Regions from separate parts of the Homo sapiens genome. Here all the other regions are linked to region 3. Evidence: fine-mapped expression QTL. A gene starts in region 3. Each other region holds a variant in brackets. All regions are shown on one strand. Distances are between the middles of the regions. Region 1 overlaps UBE2F (ubiquitin conjugating enzyme E2 F (putative)). Region 2 holds the start of SCLY (selenocysteine lyase). Region 3 holds the start of ESPNL (espin like). Region 4 overlaps ESPNL (espin like). Region 5 holds the start of KLHL30 (kelch like family member 30).

Evidence for each region.
Region 1: its variant is fine-mapped to the expression of ESPNL in whole blood (TOPMed, PIP 0.93).
Region 2: its variant is fine-mapped to the expression of ESPNL in whole blood (TOPMed, PIP above 0.99).
Region 4: its variant is fine-mapped to the expression of ESPNL in esophagus muscle (GTEx, PIP above 0.99). The same link has a PIP of 0.9 or more in adrenal gland, aorta, atrial appendage, breast, esophagus mucosa and fibroblasts.
Region 5: its variant is fine-mapped to the expression of ESPNL in subcutaneous fat (GTEx, PIP above 0.99). The same link has a PIP of 0.9 or more in liver and lung.

The regions. Positions count from the first base shown.
Region 1 is chr2:238,037,864-238,043,817 of GRCh38, reverse strand. UBE2F (ubiquitin conjugating enzyme E2 F (putative)) reads right to left here. Exons shown (of 10, transcript NM_080678.3): 10 at 1,036-2,530. The coding sequence ends at 2,480. The region is part of intron 7 of UBE2F-SCLY (UBE2F-SCLY readthrough (NMD candidate)); the gene reads right to left. Among named protein-coding and RNA genes, the nearest start is that of SCLY, 20 kb to the left of the region's middle. RefSeq lists a silencer at 918-1,110 and an enhancer at 3,536-4,036. The variant C/T (reference allele first, on the strand shown) is at 3,537.
Region 2 is chr2:238,059,164-238,065,117 of GRCh38, reverse strand. It overlaps SCLY (selenocysteine lyase), which reads right to left and starts at 4,117. Exons shown (of 12, transcript NM_016510.7): 1 at 3,975-4,117; 2 at 649-761. The coding sequence starts at 4,063. It overlaps UBE2F-SCLY (UBE2F-SCLY readthrough (NMD candidate)), which reads right to left. Exons shown (of 19, transcript NR_037904.1): 9 at 649-761. RefSeq lists silencers at 3,908-4,357, 4,498-4,707. The variant A/C (reference allele first, on the strand shown) is at 2,632.
Region 3 is chr2:238,097,378-238,103,331 of GRCh38, reverse strand. It overlaps ESPNL (espin like), which reads right to left and starts at 2,992. Exons shown (of 9, transcript NM_194312.4): 1 at 2,619-2,992; 2 at 1,201-1,391. The coding sequence starts at 2,912. It overlaps SCLY (selenocysteine lyase), which reads right to left. Exons shown (of 12, transcript NM_016510.7): 12 at 3,919-5,130. The coding sequence ends at 4,977. UBE2F-SCLY (UBE2F-SCLY readthrough (NMD candidate)) reads right to left here. Exons shown (of 19, transcript NR_037904.1): 19 at 3,919-5,130. RefSeq lists enhancers at 615-784, 4,550-4,844, 4,479-5,147, 5,148-5,815, 5,816-5,954.
Region 4 is chr2:238,124,608-238,130,561 of GRCh38, reverse strand. It overlaps ESPNL (espin like), which reads right to left. Exons shown (of 9, transcript NM_194312.4): 6 at 5,178-5,292; 7 at 2,828-2,940; 8 at 1,658-1,855; 9 at 1-434. Among named protein-coding and RNA genes, the nearest start is that of KLHL30, 11 kb to the left of the region's middle. RefSeq lists an enhancer at 1-198 and a silencer at 3,098-3,157. The variant G/A (reference allele first, on the strand shown) is at 2,933.
Region 5 is chr2:238,138,411-238,144,364 of GRCh38, reverse strand. It overlaps KLHL30 (kelch like family member 30), which reads right to left and starts at 5,697. Exons shown (of 8, transcript NM_198582.4): 1 at 5,607-5,697; 2 at 2,837-3,680; 3 at 1,434-1,566. The coding sequence starts at 3,610. RefSeq lists an enhancer at 2,928-3,441. The variant G/A (reference allele first, on the strand shown) is at 2,973.

The sequences.
Region 1 (5,954 bases), 60 kb after region 3:
GGACCCTCTGGAGTCCAGCCAAGAACCAGGATTCAGGAAGCAAAGGTTCTGGATGTCCAACTGGATGTCAGAGCTTCCCAAGAGCTTCACTTCCCCAAGGGCCTGCCCACTCTCACCTATTTCCAGGACTGGCCTTTTGGCCGAGTATAGGGATTCCCATTCCCTGACAGATCAGAAATCACCAACTAGTACCCGGTTGGTTGGGGGCACATGCGCTGGAGCCAGAAATGTGACTTTGGCCTGTGAAAGAGGGAGGGGAATGCTAAGAATTCAAAAAGTCTGGAAGGAAACTGGGTCCCACAGTCACCCAACAGATCCCAAGGGCCCCACTGGCCAAGCACCCAGGACAACAGCTGCTGCTTACTGCGATGGGCTGCATCTGAGTGTGCTCCTAAGATGGGGTGTGTGTGCGCAACATATCTCTGGGGGATTTCCACTAGACAGAATGGGATGATTCAGTTATCTGGACATTTTGAAAGAATTGCTTAATCCCTGATAATGAGCAAAGTGTTTTTCTACTGTGCAGATACTTTGATGTCAGAATAACTGATATTACCACTTTCAGTGTGGTCCAGAGGGCACACTGTCTTTCATGTACACTGCATAAACGTTTCCACTGGACAGCAGGCGTTTCTCCCACAGAAGCGCTCTTCTGAAAAGTCCTGCATCAACACCTGCACCACCAGCTGGGGAACTCCAGGGAGCCCGAACAACTACTATGGGATGTGCCCTGACTTGGGCCTGGGACTGGCACCAAGCAGAGAACCTCATTTCCTGGGTCAGAGGGGGCAGGAATTAGCTGCTGGCCTCCTGCCCTGCCTAGAGAGGAAGCCTAGTGCTCAGCTGGCAAGTTCCTCTGACACTAGGCAGAGGAAAAGTGTGAAGCTGCAGTACCTCCCTCTCCCAGGCCCTGAGAGGTGGGGATTAATGTGTCTCCTGGACAAGCCCTGAGCTCCTGAGATGCCATCATTCTCTTTAACCAATCTCACCCTTCCTGCTCTGTGTGGCCTGTTAGCCAGGGGCCACCCTCAAGTCTAATGGGTGCAAAGAGGAAGCAAGGCCTACATTCCTCACCTGCTGGGTCTCCGTGACAGACTGATCTCACAATCAGAGATTCTATAAATTAAGAAAAACAAACTAAACCCAGTAGATGGCAGATGGGGGAATCCAGAGGTCTAAGGAAGCTGGCAGTTAAGTTTGAGAGTGTTAGGCAGGCAGCAAATGAAACTAGACAGACATTTATTTTGTGTTTGATTTCACTGGTTCAAATGTCTACATGCTGGAGTAAATCCACTTGCCTCTCTTCAGGGCTTTTCCTCTGCAGTATATTAACCTGGCCGAGGATGGCATATGCCACTGTTGACTCCTGGTCCTCCAAGGCCTAGGAGGCTCACCCCACCGGCAGGGCCTGGAGCCATAGCAAACTCAGAAGAAGGCCACAGGTACAGTCTCAGTGACATCAGACATTGGGCTGATTCCTGAGGCATCGCTCCTGTCTCCCAGGACAGCAGGGTCTGGCTCTCTGATAAGTAGCTACCAGGTCACAATCACATGACCACTGCAAAAGCATCAACCCCAGCTGGTCCAGGCTCCAGCCAGTTTCCTCTGGGCAGCATGTTAGAATGGGCTCCCTGCCTTTTTGTTTTGATCATCCAAATCTAGCTTCAAAGGGCTCCAAAATGTGCTCACCACATCCGGACCCGAAAGCAAGAGCTGATTTTTAAGAGTGAGATTCTCATTGCATTTGGACAAAATGAATAATGTGCCTTTCATATTTTCTTTGTATTTCTCTTCAATAGTTGCTTGACCCAACATCTTTCTGTCTGCTCTATACAATGAAAATACAAACTAAATGAGAATAGAAAAAATAATTAAAGCATTGAATTGTACAAATTACAAATCTGTTCCAAAATATACTTACATTAAATAAAATACGCATTTCAATAAGAGATCTACAGTGAATGACTCTATGCATTCTGGGAGGCTTCACAACATCTAGGCAGGGCCAACATTCGTGAAAGAAGCTAAGAGATTTTGCATCCAATCACAGTTTGTAGCGGGTATCTTATTGCCAATCTGCGAGTTACACTGAACACATCATTAGCATCGCTTGTGCAGAAAACCAATTTTGTTTGGGAAAAGGGAAAGCAAGCTCTGGCCTCAATTTTGAGTTCATTACAACTTCTTAAGAATTTCACCAACAGCCTATACAGTACAAGTTCAAAAAAGTAAACATGTTAAGGTAAGCAGACAACTCTTCAGAAGCCCAAACACATTTTCTTGCTGTATTTATGTTGAATTCTCCATCTACAATGAGCAGTCATGAAGATGGTCTTCTTCAGGGCAACATGGTCACAGGACTGGGGCAATCCAGGGGACTGAGAGGGAGCATGAGGACGGGAGAGGGGGCTACCTCTTGCTGTTTCATGTTAGAGACAAACTGTAACACAGTCCATGGGCCTGCAATCGTCCCCTTTTATCATCTGGCATAACGTTTGATGTAGTCATCCACTTTATTCCGGAAGTCCTCCTGTGGAGTAACAGCATTGGGGACAGAAAGAAGAACAGGAGGAGTGAGTGAGTGAGTGAAGCAGCGCTTCAGGGACAAGTCAGATCCACCAGCACCAAGGTCCCCTGTGGTCGCCAAGGTGGTAGAAGGACTGGGACCTTGCGGAGTCTGAGTGCCATTTCGCCACGACCTGGGTGCCTACTGCACGCAAGACACAGTGCTGGGTATGTTGAGGGGGGAGCACGTGGAAGGCCTGAGTGGAAGGGACCCTAAGGGGGTACCTATCCCTTCTCATTTTCCAGATGGGGAAAGTGGAGCCCAGAAAAGTGTGGTCGAGGTCACAAAGCCAAGACTCCTTTGGCCACAATGGATGTGAGCCACAGCTGCTGCTCTCAGGAAGACCCTTGTTTCTGGATTTGTCTTCCTAGAATGATTTCCCTGGATGCTGCTACCTACTTAAAATGTGCCTGCTCTTCACAGCCCATGTACAGGCCCCCATCTCTTCTGGGCAGGATGACCACCCTGCCCAGAAGAGAGCTGGGTGTGCCACAGAGCTCCATCCTCATGCATTGAAATGAAGGTGGACAGTGACCAAAGGCGGTGTGGACCTAGGAATCACCCCAGGCCAGTATGGGTGGAACAATCTTCTCGGATCTGGGCCACTGTCAGGTTTGTCCCTGGATCTGGTCTCCCCAAGGTTAGGAGTAAAATCCCATGGGACTGTATGAGCCGTAAGAATGACTTGGAGCTCTTAACCCTCTCACTCCTACAACACAGCTGCTGGGTCTCAGATGTCCCTGCAGGATCACACTGCTTCGGTCCCATCAATGCCATGCAGCCCCCACTGCCCAGGGAACACAGCACAGTTACCATAGTTCTTAGTGGGCATGAGCTCCATTTCCTTAGCTAAGCCTCAGTCCTCCTGTCTAAGCCTCAGTCTAACCTGTTTGCTGATTCCACTGCATAATCCCGACACCTGGCAATGTGCAGGGTATAACCTGGCACTCGATGTATACCTCGCTGCTGC[C/T]GCGATGCCCTCTTGCAGGGAGATCCTGCCTGGAGCATGGTCCTGGCCAGCTGGGCACCAGGTGCCTGCCCTCCTGCCACACTTTTAGTTAGCACAGCGACCCTTTCCAGGGCGGGCAAGTTCCCAATTTGAAGCTATGGATACGGTCCCATGACTTGCTCTGGTCTCAGGGTGAGAAAGTGGAGTGCTCTGAGTCTACCCAGGTGCCTCTGCCCTGCCAACCGCCCTATTTGTCTACAGGATGGCGTTTGGAGCCTCCCACATGGGCCTTTACCCCGCAACAAAGGGGGACTGTGCAGAAACCCTGCCTGCCCTTTTACAAAACCTTCTCAAGGCCATTTCCACAATCCCCAGAGCCAGACAATACTGGCAGCTCACAAGGACCCTGCAAAAGCTTACAGGATGTAAAATGAAGACCCCATAAATGCCCCCTGCCTCTCCATGTTCTGGAGGACAAAAGATGCCATGTACTCTTAGTCTCCCTGTTCACCTCAGCCAGCATAGAGCCCGGCGTCCATGCCTGCAGCAGGCTCCATGCTCCAGCAGGCCCCATGCTCCAGCCTCTGCTGCCTCCCTCCTCCTCTCCTACTGCAAGGGACACAAAGCACAGGGCCCAAGTGAAAACCACAGACTCTGGAGCCAGAAGGAGGTGGGTCCAAGTCCTGGGCTCTGCCTCCAATGGGCTACTCAATCATGGTGATTCTCAGCTTCTTGGCAGCTGTGTCCTCAGCAGCAAAACAGGGATCATGATGGTATCTGCCCCAAGGGGCTGTTGTGAGAAACAAGTGCACTCTGTGTCAAGTGCATGGAAGCGTGCCTGGCTCCTACTATTCCATTCCTCTGATGTGCACCAGTCATAATGGCCTCTTTTCTCTGCCCTGAGCTCCACAGCACATTCCTGCCTCAGGGCCTTTGCACTGCCAGCCAAGGTTTTCTGGAGCGCTCCTCTCTCACCACCCGGCCCTCTGTGGCCCCCTCTCCACCTCACATGCTGTGTTTGTTCACCTATTTTTTTAAATTTTAATTTTCATTATTATTATTTTTTTGAGATGGAGTTTCGCTCTTGCTGCCCAGGCAGGAGTGCAATGGCGTGATCTCAGTTCACTGCAACCTCCGCCTCCTGGGTTCAAGTGATTCTCCTGACTCAGCCTCCCAAGTAGGTGGAATTACAAGTGCCTGCCACCATGCCCGGCTAATTTTTTTATTTTTACTAGAGATGGGGTTTCACCATGTTGGCCAGGCTGGTCTCGAACTCCTGACCTCAGGTGATCTGCCTGCCTCAGCTTCCCAAAGTGCTGGGATTACAGGCGTGAGCCACGGTGTCTGGCCGTGTTTGTTCACCTATGCTCCGCCTCCTCCTGCCGGAATGTGTGCGCCACAGGGACAAGGACTGTCATTCCCACAGTCATCCTGAGCACTTTGCACCTCCCCTGGCACATAAGTGGTCACCAGCCAAATAAGTGATGAACGAGTGGACATAAGGATGCGGTGCTCACCAGCTGTGACTATGACTCCGCACGGAGACGGGGATGGGGCGGCACTGCTTAGGCTTCATGTGGAGGCACCACTGTTTGGAGATTTTAGGTCCATTTTACTGGGGCTAAAAGTGTACCAGTTGCAAAGTCCTATTTTATACAAATCAGGAATATGAAATCTTGTTTCATACAAAGAAAGGTAAAATGGAAGACATCTCTCCACCTGGAGCTGTGGGAGTACCCCTATTGCCATCACTTTCTATCTGATAAGGCTTGGTCCACAAGGGCTAGTCCTCGCCAACGACAGCAGACAGGAGTGCCGCCATGAATGCCTGCAAGGGGTGGGCCAAGGGGCACATTTGCCCAGGGCTTGTCAGCGCAGTACCAAGCCCAAGGCTTTACCAGACAACACAAGCCCATCAGGACCACCGACGGATGGCAGGGGTCGGGGACTGATTGCCCCCATGGGGAGCTGTGAGCACAGGGCTGCCTCACACCCCTGCTACTTCTCTTGAGGACCCCTGCTGCTCCAGCCCTCAGGACAGAGCTTGCCTCCTTGGCAGCACACCAGCCTCAGAAGATGGCCTGCTCTGCCCGCCTGGTTGCACTGCACCACTCCCCATGCCCACCATGCCTGCCACTTGTTTTGTGAGTCTGAGCAGGATGCATGCTGGGTGGCACTTCTCTTGCCTCCCTGTCGGAGGTGCTCCTGCCCACTCTTTGGGGCCATGGTCAGGCAGCACCTCCTGAGCTCAAGACTGTAGCGAGGACTTGGCAGGGCACATTTCAAATGCCCTACTTGGTCGCGGCACACAGTAGGTCTAACTAACATTAACAGAAGCCAAGGCGCTAAACATTCAGCACGATGTCTAGAACTAGCTAGAGGGGTTTTAGAACTGTGTTCAAAGCTACATCAGGTCGGGTGCAGTAATCACTTTGGGAG
Region 2 (5,954 bases), 38 kb after region 3:
TAATTTAGTTCATCATCATCCACAGTTAACACAGTTTATCTTAATTATCTCTCATAAACATGAAATAAGAAAGGTAAGACTTTAGCTTGCTCATCTGTCTGAAAAACAGAATGTAACTCTGTCATATAACTGACTTGAAGCAAATTCTTCTCCAAAACCTCCAATTTAATGGTCTACATTACAATAAGAATAAATTGGAAACAAATAAGAATATTCATAACTAAAGTAATTAATGAAAAAGTAATTTTCATCTTTAAAAAGGGCCAGGATTATATGTTATCCTGATGACCTAAAAGACATATTTTGCAAATTCTGTAAGGATTGACTGAGCTAGATCTGTGAAGTGCTCCACAGGTACTGACTGCTACTTCAAGGAACTCTCAGTAGACACCTTTCTCATCTGGGAAAGGGTGACAGGACAGCATGTTAAAGATTAAACATTAAAGGTTAAAGATTACAGTATCGACAAGGCTCAGCTTACAAATGGGGCCTTCCCAGAAAAGAAACTATCAAAAATTACAGCTCAAGAATTGCAGCTAACAGAAACCTATTCAAAACAAAGCCGTCACGTGTGGGTGTGCAATTTCTCTAAGAGCGCCCCATCCCCATTATCTCCCATCAGTGAACACGTGCATCTTCTAGAATTACCTGCTGAATACGGGCTGCTGGGATTTCCCCAGGCTTCCCACATGGCCTTGGTCATGGCCTGGATAACTTCTGGCTCCAGGGGAGTCGTTGCATTATAGTCCATATAAACTTTCCTGAAGGAAAGAAAGCAAAGACACCCATTAAGGAAAAGGAGATGGCATATGGGAAATATGGCTGCTCTGTGTCTATCCCATCGGCAGGAGCAAATAATGTCAAGGGCATGGTGATCCTCTGCATAAGCACTGCAGGCATCCACAAGCTGCACTTGGGAATCTACAGATCTACACTACTTATGGAAAATGCATGCATAATTTCTAAGACTCTAGTTTTTGTCAATTTCTTTTATAATTGATAGGACTTGGATTTTCATTTCGGTTTTCAAAATTTCTTTCTAGCAAGGCACAGTGGATTGTGCCTGTAGTCCAGCCATGTGGGAGGCTGAGGCGGAATGACCTCTTGAGGCCAGAAGTTTGAGGCTGCAGTGAGCTATGATGGTGCCTATGAATAGCCACTGCACTCCAGCCCGGGCAACACAGCCAGACCCAGTCTCTAATAACAAACACTCTTTCTACCCCTTGGTAGGATTAATGGTCTGTTGGGCCCAGATTACCCATCTGACTGCTGTAAAGGGCAGATCACTGGCCTCTTCCTTATGGAAGGAGGGGAACAGCTGCACATTCCCCAAGGGAACTTTCCTGTCTGCTGTTTTAACTTCATCAGAGGTTCGCCTTATTTCCCCACACTCATTTTTGCGATGGCCTGTGGGGCTCCTAGTGACCTGGGCTTCTCCCTGGGGCAGGTGAACTTTGGCCCCAGACCTTGCACTTTCAGTTTCTTTGCCCAGAAAGACTACATGCCCTGCCCCCACCTTACTTTTTTAGGTCTTTGTTCCAACTTAGTCCTCTTGTGAGACCCCCTGCCCTGCAGCTCTGCTTAAAACTACAGCTGGCTGGGCGCGGTGGCTCACGCCTATAATCCCAGCACTTTGGGAGGTCAAGGCAGGTGGATCACTTGAGGTTAGGAGTTTGAGACCAGCCTGGCCAACATGGTGAAACTCCATCTCTACTAAAAATGCAAACATTAGCCCTACTAGGGAGGCTGGGGCAGAAGAATTGCTTGAACCCAGGAGGCAGAGGTTGCTGTGAGCCGAGATCATATCACTGCACTCTAGCCTGGGCAACAGAGTGAGAGTCCGTCTCAAAAAAAAAAAAAACAACAACAAAAAAAACAAACCCACAAAACTGCAGCCACCTATGTCCCTACCTCCCCAGCCTCCAGGTCCCCTTCCCGCCTTCCTTTCTGGGCAGCATCATCATCTGACATACCAGACTTGTTCCCTTACTGTCTACCTTAATAGAGTAACAGAAGTATGGCTCCATGGGCATGGGGGCTCTGTTTTTCTCACTGCCCTGTCACCAATGTTGAAGCCCATGGTTGCCACACAACAGGGGCCTGATTTTTATAAGATGACAAAATAAATGCCACAGAAAGTACAAATTCCCTGAAAGATCCCTCACTAAGTAAAATTTATCTGTATATCTTTTTACTAATATCCAAAACCTTCGAAAGCCTTTAGAAAAATGTGTAGTAGTAGTCCTGCCTGATATTAATTTATCTAGTTTTTAAATAAACAGTGCTTACACCAATCCACATGAAAACCCAGATACAATGACTAACTGTGGCTGTTAAGCCACTGAGTGTGGACAGAATGTGCATTAGTTGAAATGAAGCATCTTTTCTGTTCAAAATCACTCAACAGGCTGTGCCCTGTGGCTCACGCCTGTAATCCCGGCACTTTGGGAGGCCAAGGCGGGCAGATCACCTGAGGTCAGGAGTTCAAGGTCAGCCTGGCCAACACGGCGAAACCCCATCTCTACTAAAAATACAATAAAATTAGCTGGACGTGGTGGCACGTGCCTGTAATCCCAGCTACTTGGGAGGCTGAGACAGGAGAATCGTTTGAACCCGGGCAGTGGATGTTGC[A/C]GTGAGCCAAGACTGCACCACTGCACTCCAGCCTGGGTGACAGAGTGAGACTCCATCTCAATTAAAAAAAAAAAAAAAAATCACTCAATAGGTACAAGGCTTTGACAAGTTTGACTCGCCATCCTTTACCACTCTGGTACTAGTATTAATAGTCCTAGGAATCCCCCAGCCCGGCTTGACTTTGCATGTGCCCTTATATCTGTTTTTCTTTCCTATAAATAAGCATCCAAAGTACCTTAGGCTAGCTAGTGTTTGTTGAGCGACTGTAGCTCTTCAATCTGCTGCTGGGCTGAACAAATCTATTTTGTTCAGATTAATACTTTACACATTCCTTTGCTTCATTATTTGCTGCTTCCTTAAAATGCTATCAGTATTGGATGAGCAGGCTCAACTTTGTTAGCTTCATAACCAAAAAATAAAAAATCTTGGGAATCTCGCTCCACTGATTCCCTAGGGGATATTTTCCCAGATCCCTTCACTTTGTTCCAACCAAGGTAGAATGCCAAATGTGTGTGCTTTAGGCCTGGACCCCCTCATATTCTAAGCATGGGTAGCGAATGAGCTCACAAAAAGGAAAAAGAGGGGTCTGGAAAGAAGACACACAAACCAGAAAATGCATACCCCTGCCTCCTGCTCTTCTCGGACTTAACTAGTATGGATACCACGTGCTTCGGGTCTCCGCGCTTCTCAGCGGTGGCCATCCCGTTTCCTGCAGCTGGGCCAGCAGTCTGGGAGAACCCTTGATTCCCTTTCACCTGCCCCAGTGCACCAGCTTCCTACCAACGCATCCGTTTCTGGGCGCACACCACATCTCTCTCCTAGGTTGTTACAAGATCCCCAACTGGCTTCCCGGCTTCCTCTCGTCCCATGCCTACCCGCGCCCCTACTTTCTAGGAAGCAGCCAGAAGGACTCCTTCAAAACACTTAAATTGCATCGCCCCGTGATCAACTTCCGAGGCCCCATAAGGCTCCGAATGAACCCCAAAGTTCTTCCCGGGCTCAGGGGCTCTGCCGGTTCACCTCCGGCAAGTCCCCTGCCCTTCGCATCTGCTGTGCCCTCTTCCTGGCAGGCTCTGCTTCCCCAGAACCTGCAAACCTCACCCCTGGAAGTCACTCGGGTTTCGGCCCCAAAGTCACCTCTCCGTGGGCCCTTGCGGGGCCACAGCTCGCACCCGCTCCTCCTTGAAGCTCGCATCCCTGACTTAGGCCGACCTCGCGGACATCCCCGCGCGGGACGCCCCACGCGAGAGCGGCCACAGGCCGGGAGCCCCCTTCGTCCTCCCGCGCGGGACAATCGGCGACAGGCGCCGGCCGCTCCCCAGCCCTGCCCTAAAGGCGCGCACCTCTCCGGCGAGTTGTGTTTCCCGCAGCCGCTGGGCTGACTCGCCGCGGGTGCCGGCGCATCCCTCCCCGGCGCCACGGCCGCCTCCATCCCCGCCCCACTGCTGCCGGGCATCCAGCCTCCTTCCCGCGGAGCGCTACGGGCCCAGAGCGCCGGGGAGGAGGCGGGGCCGCGACGCCCGGGCGCGTCCGGATTGGCTGAGCGAAGCACCCCAGCCAATCCACCCGCTTCAGAGGGCCGCCGAGCCCCCAGCGGGGAGGCGAGGCTGCGCTGGGTCAGGTGACGGGTGGGGGCGGGGCTTAGCGCGTCACAGAGCTTCCCGGGAACCGGGCGCTAGAAGCCGCGTCTCCTGGGCCGGCGGATCCCCGCACTTTCACTTCCGGGGGAGCCCCGTGACCTTTGCTGTCTGCGGCAGGGCCGCCATCGGGCCGCGGCCGGTTAGTCGGCGTAAGAGCAGGCGGGGCCCGAGCTGGACCTGAGGAGCAGAGGCGGCTGGGCAGTCCTGCGGGTGCCTCCCTCTAGCCGCATGAGCGCGGGACCGTGCACTCCGGGAGAGCCGGGGCCGCGCGGCCTTGTTCCCCGCGAACCCTCGAGGGGAAGTGCCGGGGCCGCGGCAGCAGGGCCAGGGCCCCGGGGGTCTCCCGCAGGCCACCCTGGACAGTGATGAGCAGGTCCGCTGGACCTGCGCGTCCGTTAGTCGGAGCGGCTCCATAGGGGACCTGGATGGCGTGAAGTTAAGAGTCACGCATCGAGGATGGACTTGAGGGGATCTGGAGTAGAGGATGGGAGGGCATTGAGAAAATAGGGCCAGAGATGAGGGACTCTAAGTGGGCGTGGAAACGCAGGAAAGATTAATTCAAGATCTGTTTAGGCCGTTAAATAGGAATTGGGGCATGAGGGACAGGAAGGAAGCAAGGATTAGACAAGTGACTGGGAAGATGTTAGTGCCTTTATCTGGGTAAGAGGGAAGACGGGAGGGGGAAAGATGATGGGTTTAGCTTTGGACATGTTGAGTTGTCTGTGAGACAGTCACAAGTGTAAACATCCACCAATGGTTGGTGTCCCGCCAACCATTAAGAAAAGTCAGTTGAGAAAGTGGTAGAAATGAGCAAAAATCCTCACGAAGCCATCCTACCGTCACTTTTTTTGTTGTTTTTTGTTTTTTTGGCATAATAGTGTCTACCTTTAATTGAGCCTTGAACTATGCCAGGCAGTGTTCTAGGTATTTTTCGTGTGTTCACTAATTTAATCTTGATGATTAACCCAGTCTGGTAGGTATTTATGTATGAGGAATCCAAGATACAGAAAGGCATCTTGCCCAAGTTCACACGAGTAGTGGCTGGAGCCAAAATTCGGTTTCAAGCATGCTTTGCCAAGAGGTTGAATTTTAATTGGCTTTTCATGGGCTTTCTCTATTTTGTGTCCTGTTGGGGTCCAGAATAACTTGGCTTTTCCAGCACAGCAAATCTGCAAATTTCTGGACTCATTCTCTCTCATTCTTCCCTATAAACGCAGCTCATTTCTTGCCAAATGCAGCCAATAGCAAAGGGCCCACCAACATTTAAGAAGCAAATGGATGCACAGGAGCATGAGAACAGTCAAAAGAGGAGGAAAGGAAAGGGAATTGAGAAGGAATGTCAAAAAAGTCAAGAAGACACATAATAGTGTAAAGTGTGGCTGAGAGGCAATCCGAAGTCTACTGTGCGTAACAATTAGGAGGCACTGATAAACTAGCGAGAGAAGTCTCAGTGATGGGAGAGGCATGGAAGTTAGAATGCAAAGATGGGATATGAAAAAATGAAGAATGCAGTCAACTCTTAAAACGGTTGAGAAAGGAGGAATTAAAAAGGCGTATAAGATTACAGGCAAGCTGGGCGCGGTGCTTCACCCCTGTAATCCTAGCACTTTGAAAGGCTGAGGTGGGTGGATCACCTAAGGTCAAGGGTTCGAGACCAGCCTGGCCAACATGGCAAAACTCCGT
Region 3 (5,954 bases):
TCAGCCTCCTGAGTTGCTGGGACTACAGGCAGTCACCACCATGCCTGGCTAATTTTTAAATAAATTTTTTTGTAGAGATGGAGGTCTCGCTACATTGCCCAGGCCAGTCTTGAATTCCTGGGCTCAAGCAATCCTCCAGCCCCAGCCTCCCAAGATGCTGGGATTACAGGCATGAGCCACTGTGCTCGGCCCAAGTCTCCCAGTTTTCAATGGTGGAAACTTCTTTAAAAGCCGTGTGGGTCTGAGAGAGACTGTGGCCAGCCAAGGCTGAGGGTGGTGTGGACGCTCTGGAGAAAAGCCACAGAAGCGAATCCCAAAGGCCTTTGCCAAGCAGTCCAGGATGGGAACACCCGGGAATGAGAACCCGATTCCACAAGCAAGCTGTCGGGGCTTGTCCTGGAGCTAAGGGGGTGTGGGGGACTGAGGCCTCTGGGGCAGCGACAGGAAAATGAGATGCTGCCTCGAAAAGAGAAGAGCCGTGGTCAGAGGTAGGTGGGTCCCTGGGGGACAGGAAGGTTCGCCCTCAGCCAAGACAGTAGGAGGCAGAGGGCCTGTTCCTATGACAACAGTGACCTTTGTAAGCAGGGCGAGGACTGGAGGAGCTTCCAGGTGGGGAGGGAGGCCATCTGCCTTACTGGCTGTCCTGACCCTGGTCCTTCCTCGTTGCCCATCCACTAATTCCAGCAGGGGGCACAGGGCCCCAGAGACGATGAGGCCAGCGCCCGGCTCTAGGGGTCCCAGCACAGGGGTGGGGCAGTGCAGAGGCAGCTCCAGCCTCTGTGTCCCCAAGTCCACTAGACAGTCCCCACTCCTGTCAGGTGATGGGAGGGTGCCCTCACAGGTTGCCAGCTGCCCACGTCCCCAGCTGTTTTAGGTCCCGAGATGCCCCCAGGTGGGGCCAGAGCTGCCCTGGGCATCACAGCAGCATCTTGCCATCGTCACCGCCCCCAGCCACTCTCCAAGCTGAAGCACTGGCCTGTGTCCCCTTGGGCCCTGGCATGGCACTGCCACTGCCTGGCCTGTGGGTAGAGGCCTCATTGCCCTTGGCTCCTGCCAGCTCACCCCCACAGTGACAGCATGCCCGCCTGCAGGATTCACCTCAAAGGCCACCAGCCTGTCCTCTTGGCCCTCCATGGTGCAGCCTCCCCTTGGCCAGCTCGCCCCAGGCTGCCCCCCCAGGCGGGACTTTGGGCTCCTTACCTGCCATGCGCGGCTGTCAGGAGCTTGAGGCAGGTCAGGTCCCCACTGACGGCAGCGTGGTGCAGCGGCCGGGCTCCCTCCCGGGTCTCTAGCGTGGCCGAGTGGCCCTCGTGGAGCAGCCACTCCACCAGCACTGGGTGTCCAAAACGGGCGGCCAGGTGCAGCGGGGAGACGCCCGAGGCATCTTGGTCCTACCAAGCCCCGGGTAGGTCAGTGAGTGGGGGGTAGGCCGTGAGGTCAGAGCCAGCTGCCGGAGGTGGGCCCTGGGCGAGGGCTCACACTGCCTGCAACCCAGTGAAGGGGCTTCCAGCTCCTTCCTCCTTCCCTCCGTTTCTGCCTGCAACATGGAGGGAGGTGCTCCCTGCTGGGACTGAGGTGAGAGGAGGGCCAGGACTCAGGTCCAGGTCTTGGGAGGCCACCTCTGGCAACCCTGCCCTCTCCTGGGCCCGTCCCCAGTGTGGAGAAGGCCCTTTCCCACGCAGTCGGGTGCCCGCAGACACCTGCCCACTCTGCTCATGGTCAGAAAGGCTTCCCAGGACACCTACCTCTGGCTGGTCCCCTGCCCCAGTGCCCTCCCGCTGGCCACAGGGTCCCGGGGCCAGGGAGCGTTCCTACCACAGGTGTCAGGGGTCCAGCAGACCTGGGCCTTCTCCAAGGGCCCTGTCAGAATGGATCCCCAGGCAGGCACAGCTCCCGCCTGCTGCCCTTGGGTTTGGCGGAAGGGCCGACAGGAACAGGATGCTGGGCCGGGACTCTCAGGTGCTCTGGCGAGCCAGGTGCTGGGGAACCTTCCCGCTCCGCAGTCTAAGCAGGCCCCACCGGCCCCCACCTCAACTCTGACCTCTGGGCGGCGGCGTTCTAAGGCCGGTCAGTCCTGCTCACCCTCAGCCCTGAAAGCTCCACAGGGCTGAGCGACAGCTCTAAGGGCCTCGCCTGCACAAAGGGGACTGGGCAGGCAGGATAGGGGAGGGGGGCCCAGTAGAAACGATCCGGACAAGACGATCACCATCAGCAGCCCTAACTCCCGTCCCCCAGGGCTAGGCTCCCAGCTCTCAAGCCCAAGTTCCCACAGTGCTTCTGTAAGGATCCCTTTCTAGACCCTTTGGGAGGCAGGCCCTGTGGACCAGGCCTGATCAGAGACAGGGGTCCTGATATCTGGCAAGACCCCCACTGGCAACGCCCAGCTTCCTGGCAGGGAAGGTGATAAGAAAATTTAGGAGGTGTTCTTGGCTCTCAAGCCTTTGTGCTCTGAGAGGCGTGGGGCAGAGACGGTAACCACTGACTGAGTCCCCAAGAGAAACAAAGGGCCCAGGGCCATGGAGCCCGGGGTGGCCAGTACTCTGATCCTCCGTGGCTCACACCTCCCTGGTTCCACCCCAGCCAGCTTCGTGGAGCCAGGCTGCCCCATCCCCGCTCACCTGCAGACCGCAGCCCCCCTCGCGGACCAGCCAGCACAGCTCGGCCAGGCTGCCCGTGGCAGCGGCGTCATGCGCTGGGGTGGCCCCGTTGTGGGCCCGCTGGTTGCCGGGCAGCTGGGCCCGCTGCACCAAGAACTTGACGCAGTCCAGGTGGCCAGCCCGGGTGGCGTGGTGAACCAGGCCGGCCCCCAGAGCATCGGTGATGCCCGGGCCCAGGGCGCCAGCCTCCAGCAGCCGCTCCAACGTCGCCACATCCCCATCCTTGGCGGCCACGAGTGCCCGCTGCTTCTCCATCCTCTGGCCCGGGCTCTCAGTGGCGACTCATGCACAGGCTGGGGCTTCCTGTTTCAGACGTGGATGAAGCTGCCGGCTCTGGTTACCCGATAAGCTGCCACAGGGCAGATGGGAGGCGGTGGGGTGGGGTCGGGTGGGGGGACAGGCCTTGAGGACCTGCCCAAGCCACTCCCACAGTGTGAGGGTGCCAGGTGCCTGGAGCTGGGAGGATGGAGTACAGGGCACAGGGAAAGGCCCACACCAGGCTAGGTCAGGGCTGGGTATGGCCAGCAGAGAAAGGAGGCTGGCCCTGAGGCTGCTCAGATCTGTCCAGATGGCAGGAACTTCATCTGTGGAGCGAGGGCTGAGGATACACGCCACTGAGCTTCTCACAGGAGCCCCGAGTGGCCTGGGAGACAGTTCCCCCAACTCTCACAGAAGGGCAGACCCCCAGCCGCCACCACAGTGTGTCTGAAGTAAAGGGTGCCCAGTAGGTCTACATGTTTGGCTGTGTTGACACCCACAGAGCTGAGCGCCCCGCCTCTGGGTCCCGGCCCTCGGCCCTGGAGGCTCCTAGGAATCTCTGGGGACACAGTGGCTCCACGGGGCCTGCAATGGGCTCAGGACCCTGACTTGGGTGTGTCCAGGCCTCTGAGGCGAGAAGGTGTCAGCCCCTGCCTCGGCCCCCTCTCCAACTACACGGACCAAGTCTCTGGGCTGCAGCCCCAAGGGCCCAAGTACATTTAACCCCTTTCCAGATTGTTCTGGACAATCCATAGTTCTTCTTTAGGGAAGTCAGGACCACCACAGCCTCTTCCTGGCAGCAATGGGAAGCTGCAGATGGGGGACCCATTACATTTGTAGGGGCTTCCGGAGACACAGCCTCAAGCTGGATTTCTGGGCTAACGCATCATCACACAATGGTGACCTGGGGGCTGCTGCACCCCTGGCTTCCCCCCGACAGGCTCTGTCAGATGACTTTGTGCCCAAGCGCAGTGCCCACTAGAGAAACCACAGGATCCCCAAGTCGGGCACTGAAATCTTTTATTCGTTAATTTAGTTTCTGGCAAGTGTTTCCTCAAAATCATCAAGTAGTTCCTTGAACCGTAAAACCACACATTAAAAATGTTATTCCACTGAAAATGACTCCTATGCAAATATCGACATGTGATGTGTGTCCAAATGCCAGAGCATTTTGAGAAAAGAATCCTCTGCAAATAAAATTAAGGTAAAAGCTGAGTCAGGGATGATCCGATTCCCACCCCAGGAATGACCTGGAGCTGCACCAACTCAGCGAGGTTGGAGCTGAAACCCTGAGTTAATAATGATCAAAAGGGACAAGACAGGAAGGCCTGGGGACCGTGGACAGGGAAGTGCGCAGCCCTGATTGCCAGTGGGCGGAACAGGGTCAGGCTCGGGGAAGCAGGAGGGGTGGTGGGCGGTGGGCGCTGAGCAGAGCAGGCCTGGCCGAGGCTGGGGGCCACTGTGCACTGAGGCCAGAGGAGCAGGGTGGTGGGGGCAGCTTTGGAAAGGGACTAAAAAGGGCCTGAGAAGAGACCACTCTGGAAAGGTGCATGTAGAGGCCATGATCAAAACAAAAAAATCAAGTTTCCTACGTTCATGATAGCATTTGGCTGACAATGAGTTATAAATACTTGGATTCTATCTTCCAGATAAAAACACCTTCCAGGAAAGGGCACTCACAACAGGCGTGCCCAGTTCCCAGTGGGGAGGGTGGATAAAGCTAAGTGTTTCCGCTTCACCACTGGAGGACGGTTCTATGTGGGCGGTCCCATGTGGGCGGTCCCATGTGGGCGGTCCCATGTGGGCGGTCCTATGTGGGCGGTCCTATGTGGGCGGTCCCATGTGGGCAGTCCTATGCGGCGTTGGTGTCCTGGGCCCTGTGAGCTCTGCAGGGGTCCAGGGAAGGAAACTGGGGGTGCACACTCGCTGGCACTCCAGGACAAAATGCAGAGGGGGCATGAGACAGTCATCCTGGCACAGCCCTCAGGAGGGAACTGGAGGGACAACCCTGTGCCCTGCCACGGGCTTCCCAGAAGCGGGGTGGGGAAGGCGGCCCCAGTGCTAGGCCTGGTCCTCCAGCTGCGCCACGGCCTGCTTCAGGTCCTGCACGACGAGGTCCACCTCGGCCCTGGTGGTGCTGCGGCCCACGCTGAGCCGGAGCGCGTTCCTGGCCACGTCGAAGGGGACACCGTAGCTCAGCAGCACTGGGGACGGCCTGGGGAGGGCGAGACCGAGCTGCAGCTGCTGCTGAGGGCACATGGAAGAGACACAGCCCCCCCTGCTCTGGACCACTCCCCTAGTGGGGCTCTGCCCACCCGGATGTGCGCCTGCCTCGCCTGGCATCCACCTCCTGCTAAACTCCCAGACCAAGCACACCCCTAAGATCACCCACATCAAGGTGTGGCTCAAAGTCGCCCCCGTTCTCCCTGCAGAGTTCTCTTGCACTTGGCACTCCCAGGTGACACTGCCTCCCTCTCGCACTGAGCTCTGGGGCCAGGGGCTCTCCTGTCCTTGAGGGGTCTGAGGTCCTGGAGAACACGGATGCCGACACAGACAGTGCCTTACCCATGCGGCCCACCTGAGCCACTTGGTAACTTCATGGCACCTAGCATGGGGCTTTGCAGACACTAGGGACCCAGTCAGTATCTAGCCATGAACAGATGACTGCGTGGGGACATCCTGAAGCAAGGCTGTTGGAGGCTCGAGATGTGGGCTCTGTCAAGGGGCCTGACCTCATCACACCCGGGTCCCTTTCCTCCCCTGCCCCTCCTGCAGCAGGGCACTGTCCCCCCAACAAAGGGCCCCATCCTGCCCCTCCTTTTCCCTGGAGCCAGGCCCACCACTGTCTCGCTCCAGGTGCTCCTGCACAATCCCTCTGCCCTGACCTTGATGGCCACGTGCTGCTGGCTACAGTTCCGCTCTCTCCCCAGAACCCTGAGTGTTCCTCCTGCGTCCACTCCGACCTCCCACAGGGGCCTCACGTTTTCAGCAGACCAGACCCAGAACCACTTCTCCCCTGCTGCCAGCAGGCCGCTGCTC
Region 4 (5,954 bases), 27 kb before region 3:
CCCTGTACTAGCCCATGCACGCCCTTCAGCAGCAGGGACAGGCTGCGTACCAGGCGGGAGATGTGGCTGCACCAGAAGGGCAGGGGCTGCACCCCGGGGGCCACCTCTGAGGCCTCCGCAGACCCTGCGGGCTCAGCCGCTGGGATTGAGGCCTCCTCAACCTCCAGTCCGGGCGCCCGGGGCAGGAAGTGGCTGTTGACCGTGATGCTGACCAGGGGCTCGGGCAGCAGGGCCTGCAGCTCAGCCGCCAACCGGCCCAGCTCACTCTCATACTCCTGACAGCGGCGCCGAAGCTGCAGGTCTGCAATCTGCTTCTCCAGGTAGACCAGGTCATCCTCTGTCAGCAGCTCCCCAAAGGGCCCCAGGATGGCCTGATGAGTCTGTGAGTACCTCCAGGCCGCCTGCTCCGTGGGGCCTGAGCTCCCACCATTGTCCTGGGCACAGGAAGGGCAGGGTGAGCAGGGTGAGCCCACCCACCCACCATCAGCCCACCTAGCTTCCAAGTCCCTGAGTTCTCAGTATCTCTGCAGAGCCTCTGGTCCTGCCCCAAGGTAAGACTTTAAAGGGCTTCCCAGCTAGGGCAGAAGCCCCTGACCTGCTCTGCCCGTCTTGCTCTGCTCTCAACCCTGTGGCTTTCAGCCCCTACGGCTCCCAGCCCAACAGGCAAGGACAGGCTGGGCCCTCAGACAGGGCTGTCCCACAGTCCTGAGACGATGGAGACAGGCTGTATTCCAGCAGCCAGGAGCCACCTGTGGCTACAGAAACGACAGGTGGCTGGTGCGACGGAGGGGCAGGACTTTTACTTTCCTTAAATTGTAATGAATTTCAGTGGCTGCATGTGGCTGGCAGGATTGCGCTGGACACAGCGCTGGGCCGGGGGCACAGAACTCAATCATCTTGACAAAATCATAGGACTCTGAGGACATAATTCCTGAACTCCTGTCTGCACAGCAGCCCGGGGAGCCTGTTAAAATCCAAGGCACATCACAGCCCTTCTCTGCTCAGATTCTCAGTGGCTCCCCACGGCCTCACAGAGGTGCAATAATCCCAGCCAGGTTCCTCTCCAACCTCAGGCGCCCACTCCATGCCAGGGCGCCTCCTCCTGCTCCTCCCCCGGCCAGCCCGGCCTCAGGACCCTTGCACTGGCTGTTCCCTCTGCCTAGGAGGTGCTTGCCCCAAATTCCCACAGGGCTCCCCCTCTCTTCCCTCTGGCCCCTGCTCAAGGCCACGTCCCCAGAGGGGGCCCCCTAAGCACCCATATATCATAGTCCCCCAACTGCTTTGCTTTCTCCACAGCAGTGGGAATCGCACCCCACACACCTGCCGGCACCTGCCCATGGGCCACCGTCTTCCCTGCTAGACGCTGCGCCCAGGAAGGCCTAGAACAACGCTTGGCACAGGCAGGCATGTGCCACAAATCCGCCAAGTGGAAGGATACGTGGGACCCATGCCTCCAGAGCAGGTGAAGGGGCTCTGCTCAGAGTCCTCTGGTCAGGTTCACTTCATCCTCCGGCGGAAGCAGCAGCTGAGGCCACAGAGGAGAGGGGCCCCTGGGTCTTGGATTCAGTTCTGGGCTTCGGGCGCCCTGACTTCCACTTCCACCTACCTGGAAAAGGCCCCGCCCCGCCCACTGGTCCCGCCCCTGCCGGGGGCCTACCTGGGCCTCTGCGGAGCTCTCTGCGCCCAGGCGCGCCTGCAGCTTCCGCACCATCACCTGCCGCTTCCACTCTGGGATGGGCTGGCCGCGCTCATCCCGCGTGGGCACCAGCCCGTCGATGTCGCCTGAGGGCAGCCCATCCAGCTGTAGTGCGGCCAGGCCATCTGAGGTGTCCCCCGCCAGCGCCGTCTCTGTCCCCTGTGCAGAAGGGGGTGGGTCACACAGGCCCGAAGGGGACCCAGGCCCTGAGTGGAGGGAAGATCCGAGAGGACGTGGGGGGTTGGCTCCGCCCAGGGCACGCTAACAGGGCGCCCTGAGAGGAGGGACAGTGGGGGCCACGGACAGCACCCCACCCCCTCATCCCCAGCTTAAGAGTGAGGCCTCAGAGGGGAGGGACTGGAGGGGGCGGGGTAAGATGTGTGTGAGGGGATTGTCGGCAGAGAAATGAAACCAGAGGTCCCTCCCCGTCCCCTGTGCAAGCCCAGCAGATGCTCGCGGAGCGCACCGTATCCCTGGGCAAACTTGCTCTGGGCACAGCTACATAGACAAAGCCTGGCAGCCAATCCTGTGCCGCGGAGGGCTTGTCAGAGCCTTCAATGTGCCGTGCGCGCTCCAGCTCTCCACGACGGGCAGCAGCGCCACGTGGCGTTTCCCAGACTCCCACCGAACACCTCAATGGTTGAGAATCTGCAGTACCACGCAGGGAAAGTCTGGGCTGGCTTTCTAAGGGCCCGGCGCCCAGGAAAGGGAGAGTAAGGGGGAGCAGGACCCTTCTGCTGGTCTGGGCTGGCCGAGGCCCTGAGGAGGAGGACGGTGGCAGCGGGGCCCTGCCCATGGATGGCTGCTGCGATCTCCGCACTCCAAGCGGGCACGGAGCACCCCTGAGCTCAGAGGTCAGGGAGAGGGGCCTGGGCCACTGCAGCCCTCTGGGATAACAGAGAAGGGTCCCCGTGTTTCTGTGGTGGGGGGGACAGCTGCCGTCGCCCTGACATTCCTGTCTCTTCAGAACTCAGGGTGTTCTCGAGAGCAGCGGAGTGACGCAGGCAGCCTGGCATCCACCCTTCAGGAAAGGCCTGGCTGTGCTGGGGGCTTCTCTGGGCCCCTAAGAGGATGGGAATGGAGGCTGGCTAGGGGCCCCGGGAGACAGGAATGCAGGGGTGGAGGACGAACCTCGGGGTCAGCCGTGGCACTGGTGATGATCCTCGGAGGGGCCGGGCTGGTCATCTGCTCCCTGGGAAGAGGCTGGTCAGGATGGCCAGGCCAGGCCGGGCTGAG[G/A]GACATGGCTGCCAAGAAGAAGAAGGGTGTTGCAGAAAGGGCAAGGGCTGGGGAGCAGAGACCCAGAGCCTCGGGGATCCGGCCCTGGGGGCAGAGCTGACCTCCTGAACGATCTGCGAGCTGGGAGCTGACCCCAGCCCACCCTGCCCCAGAACACCTCGGGGGCCCCACTGGACCTTCTCTGGGGAGTCAGTGGGGCCCGCCCCCGCCTGGTCGATGGGAGAGCCTGCGGCACACCGCTGGGCCACGCCGCGGCCCCTCCTGCAGCAGGGGAGGAGCTGGGAAGGGCTTGAGGCCGCCCCTAACGCAGCTCTGCAGGCCCCAAAGCTGGTTCCCTTGCTGCCTGCAATGCTCCCTGCCCCGATGAAAACACACACTTCAGGGTCAACCTCGAGTGAAGAACACGTCTGCATCACAGCCAGGCAGACACGCACAGACACAATCACACACAGACATGCACAGACACAATCACATACACACAACACAGACACAATCACACAGACACAGACACAATCACATCACATACAGACACAGACACAATCATACACACAGACACAATTATACACACAGATACAATCACAGAAACACACACAGAACAGACACACAAACACAATCACACACAGATACACAATCACACACAGATAGACACAATCACACACATACACACAGACACACAATAACAGTGACACACACAATCACAGACACACAGACACGATCATACACACACAATCACACAATCACACAGACATACAGACACAATCACACACGCAGACACAATCACACACAGATACAGTCACACACAGAGAAACACACAGACACAGAACAGACATACACAAACACAATCACACAGAATCACACACAGATACACAGACACAATCACAGATACACACAGACACAATCATACGCAGAGACACACAGACACAAGCATACACAGACACAATCACATACACACAATCACACAGACACAATCACAGACACAATCACACAGAAACACAGAACAGACACACAGACACGGACACAATCACACACAGATACACACAGACACAATCACAGACACACACAAACACAATCACACAGATACACACAGGCACAATCACACACAGATGCATAGACACAATCACACACAGAAACAGACAGAACAGACACACAATCACACAGATACACACAATCACATAGACACAATCACACACTGACACAGACACACAAACACAAACACACATACACAGGCATAATCATACAGAGACACACAATCACAAAGACACACACAGACACAATCACACACACAATCACATACAGACACACAGACACAATCACACACAGATACACAATCATGCACAGAAACACAAACACAATACACAGATGTACAGAACACACAATCACCATACACATACATACAATACAGACACAGACACAATCACAGAGAGACACAATCACAGACACGATCACACACTCGAACACAATCACACACAGATGCACACAGACACAATCACACAGACACAGACACAATCAATCACAGAGACACACAATCACATAGACATAGTCACACACAGACACACATGAACAATCACACACATACACACAGACATAATCACACAGACACACAGACACAGACACAACATACACAGATACACACAGACACAATCACACACAGACACAATCACACACAGAGAAGGGTCCCCGTATCTATGTGTATCACACACAGAACACACAGACACAATCACACACAGAAGCACACTCCCACATGTGAGTACAGGGCCGCAGCAGGGCCCGTGGAGGAAGCTCGCCCTCACTACCTGTGGCACCTGTTGATAATTCCATTCCACTCCACTCCACTCCACTCCACTCCACTCCACTCCACTCCAAGCTGGTCACAGACCCCTAATGGTGGTGGCCCACAGCGTGAGGACTGTTGCTTGCCCTGCTAGCCCATGCATGCGAGGTGTGCTGGGGTCTGAGGGACAGCAGCCCATCCACAAGGGGCCTGGGCCCAACCGGCCCGTCTCCCCGCTTTTACCCCTGGATAAGTTGCTGTAGCTGTAAGTGCCCACCACGGAAAATGCTAATCCTCATGTTTCCAAAGCACCAAAGACAGTCAAGGAAACCTGGAAGCAACTGGGGAGGGAGGGTGATGGGGTGCCCGGCTGCCCGCAGACTTGCCCACCGGTCCAGGACCTCGGAGGGGAGGCCAGTGGCACCCTCTCCCAGGCCCATGCCCTGGGTGGCCCACTTGGGGCTGTGCACTCACGGCTGGGGTTCCCTGGCCCTGGGCCTCCTCTTCTTCCATCCTCCAGGGAGCGCCTCGTGGCCAACAGTGGAGGTGGGGGGAACGGTGGTGGTGGGGGCGTCATCAGCAGGGGCACCTGTGGGTGAATGGGCCTGGTCAGTGGGGGACCCCCGTGGGCTCTTCCCTGCTCACCTAGACAGGGGCAGGGGCACCCAGTGGACGAGCCTTGGGGAGCCTGTGCATCTGAGAAGGGCTGGGACAGGTAAGGAGGTGGCAGGAGAGGGGCAGGTCCTTGATCAGGGTTCTGTCCCAGGGTCATCTCCTGCCTGAGTGCCATCACTTCCTGGCACCCCACCTTGGTTCCCCGCCCACTTTCACCTCTATTGGGTGGGCCACCCCCATCTCAAAGCTCAGCTTCCAGGCTCCCTCTGGAGGCAGCTGAGCTCTGGGGCTCCGGGTACTGGGTTAGGGCCTGGTTTCCAGCTGTGCCCAGCGCCCTGTGGTCTCACAAAGACATGTGCACACATATGCACACACACGCATGTATGCTCTCCTGCACACACATGCATGTACTCTCCTGCACACATGCACGTACACTCTCCTGCACACACACGCACGTACTCTCCTGCACACACGCATGTACACTCTCCTGCACACACATGCATGTACTCTCCTGCACACATGCACGTACTCTCCTGCACACACATGCACGTACTCTCCTGCACACACACACATGTACACTCTCCTGCACACATGCACGTACACTCTCCTGCACACACACGCATGTACCCTCCTGCA
Region 5 (5,954 bases), 41 kb before region 3:
CCCTCCCTGCCCTCCTGGCAGCCAGGCACATACAGGGGATCAGGACCTGCAGCAGGCAGAGCAGGTCCAAATCTCAGATGTGGTGCCCCAGCTGTGTGTCCGTGGGCAAACCCCAGCCTCAGTTTCCTTGTTGTAGAATGGGGATGACCCCAGCCTCCCGGGAGCTATGGGGACTTCACAGAACTGCTCAGCTGATGACAGCTGTTAGGATTATTGTTCCTAGGGTCGTGGGGCAGAGCAATGTGCCCAAGTCAGGCCTGCCTCTCGGAGCTACAAGAGGTAAACTGAGGCAAGAGATGAGAAAATGCTTTGGAAAATCAAGACAATAAATGTGGAAATGGTAAAGTCCTATAAATGGACATATTTTGGATGTTTGTGGAAGAGACACAGGCCTTTGGGATGTCCCCTAGGAAGACTCTGTTTACTATTTATGACCATTTTTGGGAGATGCGGAATTCCAGGCCTCCCTGGGAGCAGAGCCTGGCACTGTGGGCAGGCACCGTGTCCCCATGACTCATGGCTCTGTCACCCCAGGGTGGGGGTTGCCCAGCCGTCAACAGGCTCTTCCTGCCAGCGTCCCCACCTCCCGGCCAGGTCTGAGAGACAGCTGCTCCCTCCTGATGTCAGCCCCAAACCCCCTCTCTTCAGCCCCTGACCCGAACAGCTGGCCTCAGGCTTCCTGGAGCCTGCCAGCCGCTGACGCCAAGGAGATGGTTGGCGACCTGCCTGGTGGCCCCACACCAGCCAGCCTGCATCAGCCCTTTCCAGAGCACCTCTTGGGGCCAGCGCAGGGGGCCTCCAGAGCCGCTGCGGGGCCCCTCATGCCTCCTTTCCCGCCAAATGGCAGACCTGGCCTCAGTGCCCACTTCAGGGCTCCCTACAACTGTGTGAGGAAGCAGCAGGAGCCCATTTCACAGATGAGGAAGCTGAGGCTCAGAGAGGTGAGGTCACCTGTTTGAGGTCCGGGATTACAACCCCGTTTGGGCTGACCCAGAAGCTGAGTTCTCGCTCCTCCAGCTGCCTGCACCCCTTCACCCCCCACCCCACTCTCCCCTTGGGGTCTCGATTCCCTCGGCAGGTGCACTGAGCAGGGAGCATGGGGAGGAGGCAGCGGCCAGGCCGCCCACCCCACAGGGTGCAGTCTTGGCCGTGGAGGCCTGTACACCGGCTCCAGGGCCTAAAAGGGACCAGAGTCCTGGGCTCCGGCTGCAGGGAGAGGGAGCAGCAGTGCCCGCCAGCCTTCCCCCTCCCGGGGTACCTCGGGCTCCTCTGCAGCCCCCAGGTGAGGCCCACCCAGGCACGCCCCTCACAGGGGCCTCACACAGCTCCCGGTCCTCTGCGAGCCTCATGCGCTCCACCTGCAAGGAGGACACAGCGGCTCCCGCTGGGACAGAGAGACAGCAGGTGGGTCTGGACGCGGGAGGGGTACTCACTGGCCTTGCTGTTGTAGAAGGCAAAGTTCCCAAGGCCGGGGGTGGGCTCCTCACCTGCCTCCTCCTCCTCCAGCGCCTGCCCGCCCACCACCACCAGGACCTCCTCCAGCTTCTGCTGGAGGGCGAGTGGTGCCTGTGGGGTGGGAGGCCAGGGTCAGGGCAACAGCAATGTGTCCCCATGCCCTGAGCCCCCGCGTGTCCTGGGCAGGCCTCAGCATGTGAGTGCATGTGTGCTTGCATGTTGCTGGAGATGGCGTGTGCCCGAGTGCACAAGCTGCTCCCTCCTTGCACCATGTGCCTTTCAGGGGCATTCCTGGAGTTCCTGAACCATCTTCAGAACCGATCCCATAGCAGGTCCGCAGCGCCACGCATAAGCTTCTCCCTGCCCCTGCTCCCTGGGTGGCCTCCAGCAGGCGGCACGAGGGTGTCCCGGCTCAGTGGGAAATGCTGGCTGTCTTAGGAACGGCCGGTAAGCAGTCACTGCCTAGGTCTCCCAGGACCCCAGGCTCTCCCACAGCCATCCACCCTGGCCCCCCATATGGAACCCCCAGATCTCCCACTGCCAGGAATTAGAATACAAGGTGACCGTCCACGGGCAAGGCTCTGAAGCCAGCTCCAGCAGGAGGCCGGGCGCTCTGTGACTGGCTGGAATCCAGTGGGGACAGGGGTTAGGGTTTAGCCCACTACTCACTCCACCCTTGGCCTGAGGACCATCAGTCTGAGCCACTCTTTGTCCCCGGACTTGGCTCTAAAGGAGTGCCCCGAAGCAAGGCCCCTGAGCAGGGTGCCCGGCAGCTGACCGAACAGCCACTCCCAGACCTGTCATTCCATCATGACCTGCCATGCCTGCCAGGCACACTGCCAGCACAAACAGGAAGTAGCACCCCATAAAAGCTCAGGCGGACTGCCAGGCCTGTCTGTGCCTCCTTGCCTGTGCACAAGCTGCACCTCCTTCCTGGATGGTTTTCCCCTCTTTTCCTCCTTGTGAGCTCCTATCCCTCCTCTAAGGCCCAGCTCAGATGCTGCCTCCTCCAGAGAGCCCTCCTTGACTGCCAGCCCACCCAGAATGCGTCCTAGGCATGTATTTGGCCCTTCCACACTGCCTGAGGTCTGTTTCCAGGCTTGTCCCACTGAGCTGCAGGCTCCTTCAGGACAGGGCCAGATCTTACCACTTCCACATTCCCCTGCCCCTTGCACACAGGGCGTGACACACACAGAGGCATGATCTGCACTTGAGGGCTGAATAGTGATGTCCTCATGGGGAACTGGCCCAAAACAAGGAGCGTGGCAAGGTCAGAGTGCACCTTGGAATGTCCACTCCTTACTCTGTCCCTACTCAGGTGGGGTCTCTGGGGCTCTCCTCCCTGCTTCCCAGGGATGGGGCCTCCCAGCCGCTCACTCACCCCATCATGGCCCTGGGACAGGGCTGCCCGGCATGCCTCTGACTCCTGGATCAGGGGCTCTGAGGCCAGCAGTTGCTGCACGCAGGGCCTGGGCACGGCGTCCAGGTGCACTAGGCTGAGCAGCTCGGGCAGGTGG[G/A]CGGCCCGGGCCTGCGGGTCATGGCGCACCCAGCGCATCAGGGCCTCGAGTCGGCTTTGCTCCGGCTGTACCTGCAGCAGGTCGCCGGCCAGACAAGTGACCAGCCGCTCTCGGGGAAGCTGCAGGAACTCGTCCTCACGTGCCACAGCCTCAAAGTTCTCTCGCAGGAAGGCCCAGGCCTTGGCAGCCACGCCCAGCAGCCCTTGCTGCTCCCCGAACTCACAGATGCCCAGGCAGTTGGCGGCATCCAGTTGCTGCTGCAGGTAGCGGCCGCAGACCTTCTGCACCGAGGGGAAGTGCAGGCGCGCAGCCGTGCGTGTCAGCGCCTCCACGTTGCCCTGCGTGATGGTCAGCCGGCCTGTGTACACGAAGTCCACCAGTTGTCCCACCACGGCGGGCTCCACGTCCCGCAGCTCCACGCGCGCAGAGAAGCTCTCGGCGAAGTCACCCGCAAACATGGCATGGAAGTAGGGGCTGCTGAGCGCCAGGAGGCCGCGGTGGCATGGCAGCTCCCGGCCGCCCACCAGCAGTGTGACGTCGGCCAGCTTGGGCTGAGAGCGCAGGCGCTGCAGGCCATCCAGCATGTCCTGGGCATGCGAGGGCAGGTGGAAATCCAGGTCATCCACGTTCCGCACCATGACGCCGTGCCCAGGGGACCTCAGTAGTCCACCCACTCAAGGGAAGAAGTGCCTGGAGCCGCCCGAGCTCCTAGGAGAGAAGAGAGCAGGGTCAGCCAAGTGGGGATGGTCTCATCCTCCTGAGCAACCCACCCGGTCTGTCCATCAGCCCTTTCCACCCCTTGATAAACACAGGATGGGCATCGACCATATGCCAGTCACTTTACCCCCCATCTGCCTCAAGCCACCCCCAGAACCCTGCAAGGTAGGGCAGGTGTCATTCCCATTTGCAGTGAGGAAATTGAGGTTCAGAGAGGGTGGGAGACCTACCCATGGCCAGGCATTCAGGGCAGAACAGGGTTGGCAAAAGAACCCATGCCCTGGGTGTCATCTGCAACCCTGGGCTACACTGAGCCCACCCCCCAGGGACCCCGGAGACACCCAAACTCCCGGGAGGCGTCCTCCGTCCCAGATCCCACATTGCTGGGGAGGCCATTTGGGGGCTGCAGCAGCTCCTGCTCCCGCGGTGCTCCCAGGTGCCAGGCCACGTGCCAAGCATGCAGAGAAGCTGTGCATTCACCACTCAGCCCCACAACAGTCCTGGAGGGTGGGTGCAATCATTGCCTCTTTTACAGCTGGGGAGACTGAGGCACAGAAGGTTTCAGTCACTTGCCCAAGATCACACATTTAGGAAGTGGTGGAGCTGGAATTTGAACTCAGAGCTAGGCTTGGGGGCCCAGGCTCTGAACCCTGCATTCCACGTGGCCGGGTGGAGGCTGCTAAACAGAAACGGCCAGCCAAAGGCAGCGTTCTGGAGGGTTTCGCGTCACCACGCCCGCATGGTTGAAGTCAGCAAGGCCGCTTTCAGGCTCATGTAATTATGTGCATGTGGTTTATGTCCTTCTGGTATCGCACCCTAAGACAACCATCCCTAGGAGAGATCAAGTCTGTGCACAAGCCTTCGACCCGGGTCACCCCAGGGCGAAAGGCTGCGCAGCGGAGAGGCCGTTCGCCCGCTAGGGGGCGCCTCGCGGGGCCATCCCGGGCAGGAGAGGCGGCCGCGCGTCCACAGGTACAAAATGCGTGGGAACGCCACGCATGGAAATGACAAAGCTCAGCTGGAGAACCAGGAGGCCAAGAATCTGGCCCGGGCAGCCACGGTGCAGGTACAGGTGCAGGCGATGGGAGCTAGGGCTCCCCGACTTCCCGACCCCGGTGCCACCTCTTGACCCCAGAGCGGGGAAGCACCTGGGAGCCCACAGGGCCTCGCGGACCAACCCGGGCTCGCGCACAGGGCAGCTCACGTGGCCGGGGCCCCACACCCCAGCATCCCGGCCGGTACACGAAGTACCCACCCAACACTGCATGCATGGGGTTCCTGCCTGGCCCCTCCCCAGGAGGCGCTGGCCCCGGTGAAGGCGGCTCTGCCCTCCCTGGGCAGCCGGGAGATGAGCTGGGGCCTGAGTAGGTGACAGGGCTGTCCCTGGGCCACCGCCTGCAGGCCTCACATTCCCGTCATTGTTGTGCTCCCTTGGGCCAGCTGCTGCCGGGCGATGGGCAGGCACGCATGAGCGCCCCCACTTCCCCTGGGGGCCTCGGGGTGCCTGCTGACACCTGTCACCCTGCAGTCCCTGCATGGGTCGGGGCTTCCTGAGGGTCTCAGAGCCTCACCCCAGTGCCTGCCCAGGCCCGGAGTGAGGAAGCCGAGTGGGCAGGACAACAAAAGGCCTGAGCCCAGCCAGGCTGGCGACTGTGGCTGAGTGGCCCTGGCTGCCATCTGAGGGGTGGCCCAGCCTCCCCCTCCCACCTCTCCGGCTGGGACATGGAGGGAAACCTGTCTCCTGAGCCCCCACCCTGAGGAGCCTGGCTTGGCCGCTGGCAAGGGCCAGGGGGCGTCTCCAAAGCACCCTGCTGTGATCCCTGGCCTCGGGGGCCTAACCCACCCTCCCCGCTGCTCCTGGCTGGGTTCCCCCTGCCCTCTCTGCTGTCCCCTGCCCCAGAGCCCCCTGGATCCTACCTCTCACTCAGCCTGGACCTCGAAGCTGAGAACACAGACCCGAGAGAGCAGGACTGCCTAGCCGGCAGCCAGGGGACACGGAGGCCTGCAGGGCGGGGCAGGGCTGGTCTGGTGGCCACGTGGGGAGGGTATTTTTAGCCTCTGTCTGCAGGGCGAGGGGAGGGTCAGGCAGTGAGGGCTGGGCTGGTGGGGGAAGGAGTGAGATGCCGGCTCCTTGGTGACTGTTAGCTCAGAAAGCCCACTGAGGCCTTCCAGGGACTTGTGGCCTAGGACAGACATCAGGAAGGGCTCCAGGGCAAGGACAGGTGAAAGCTGTCGCGGTTGGGCTGGCTGGTGGGGGCAGGGATG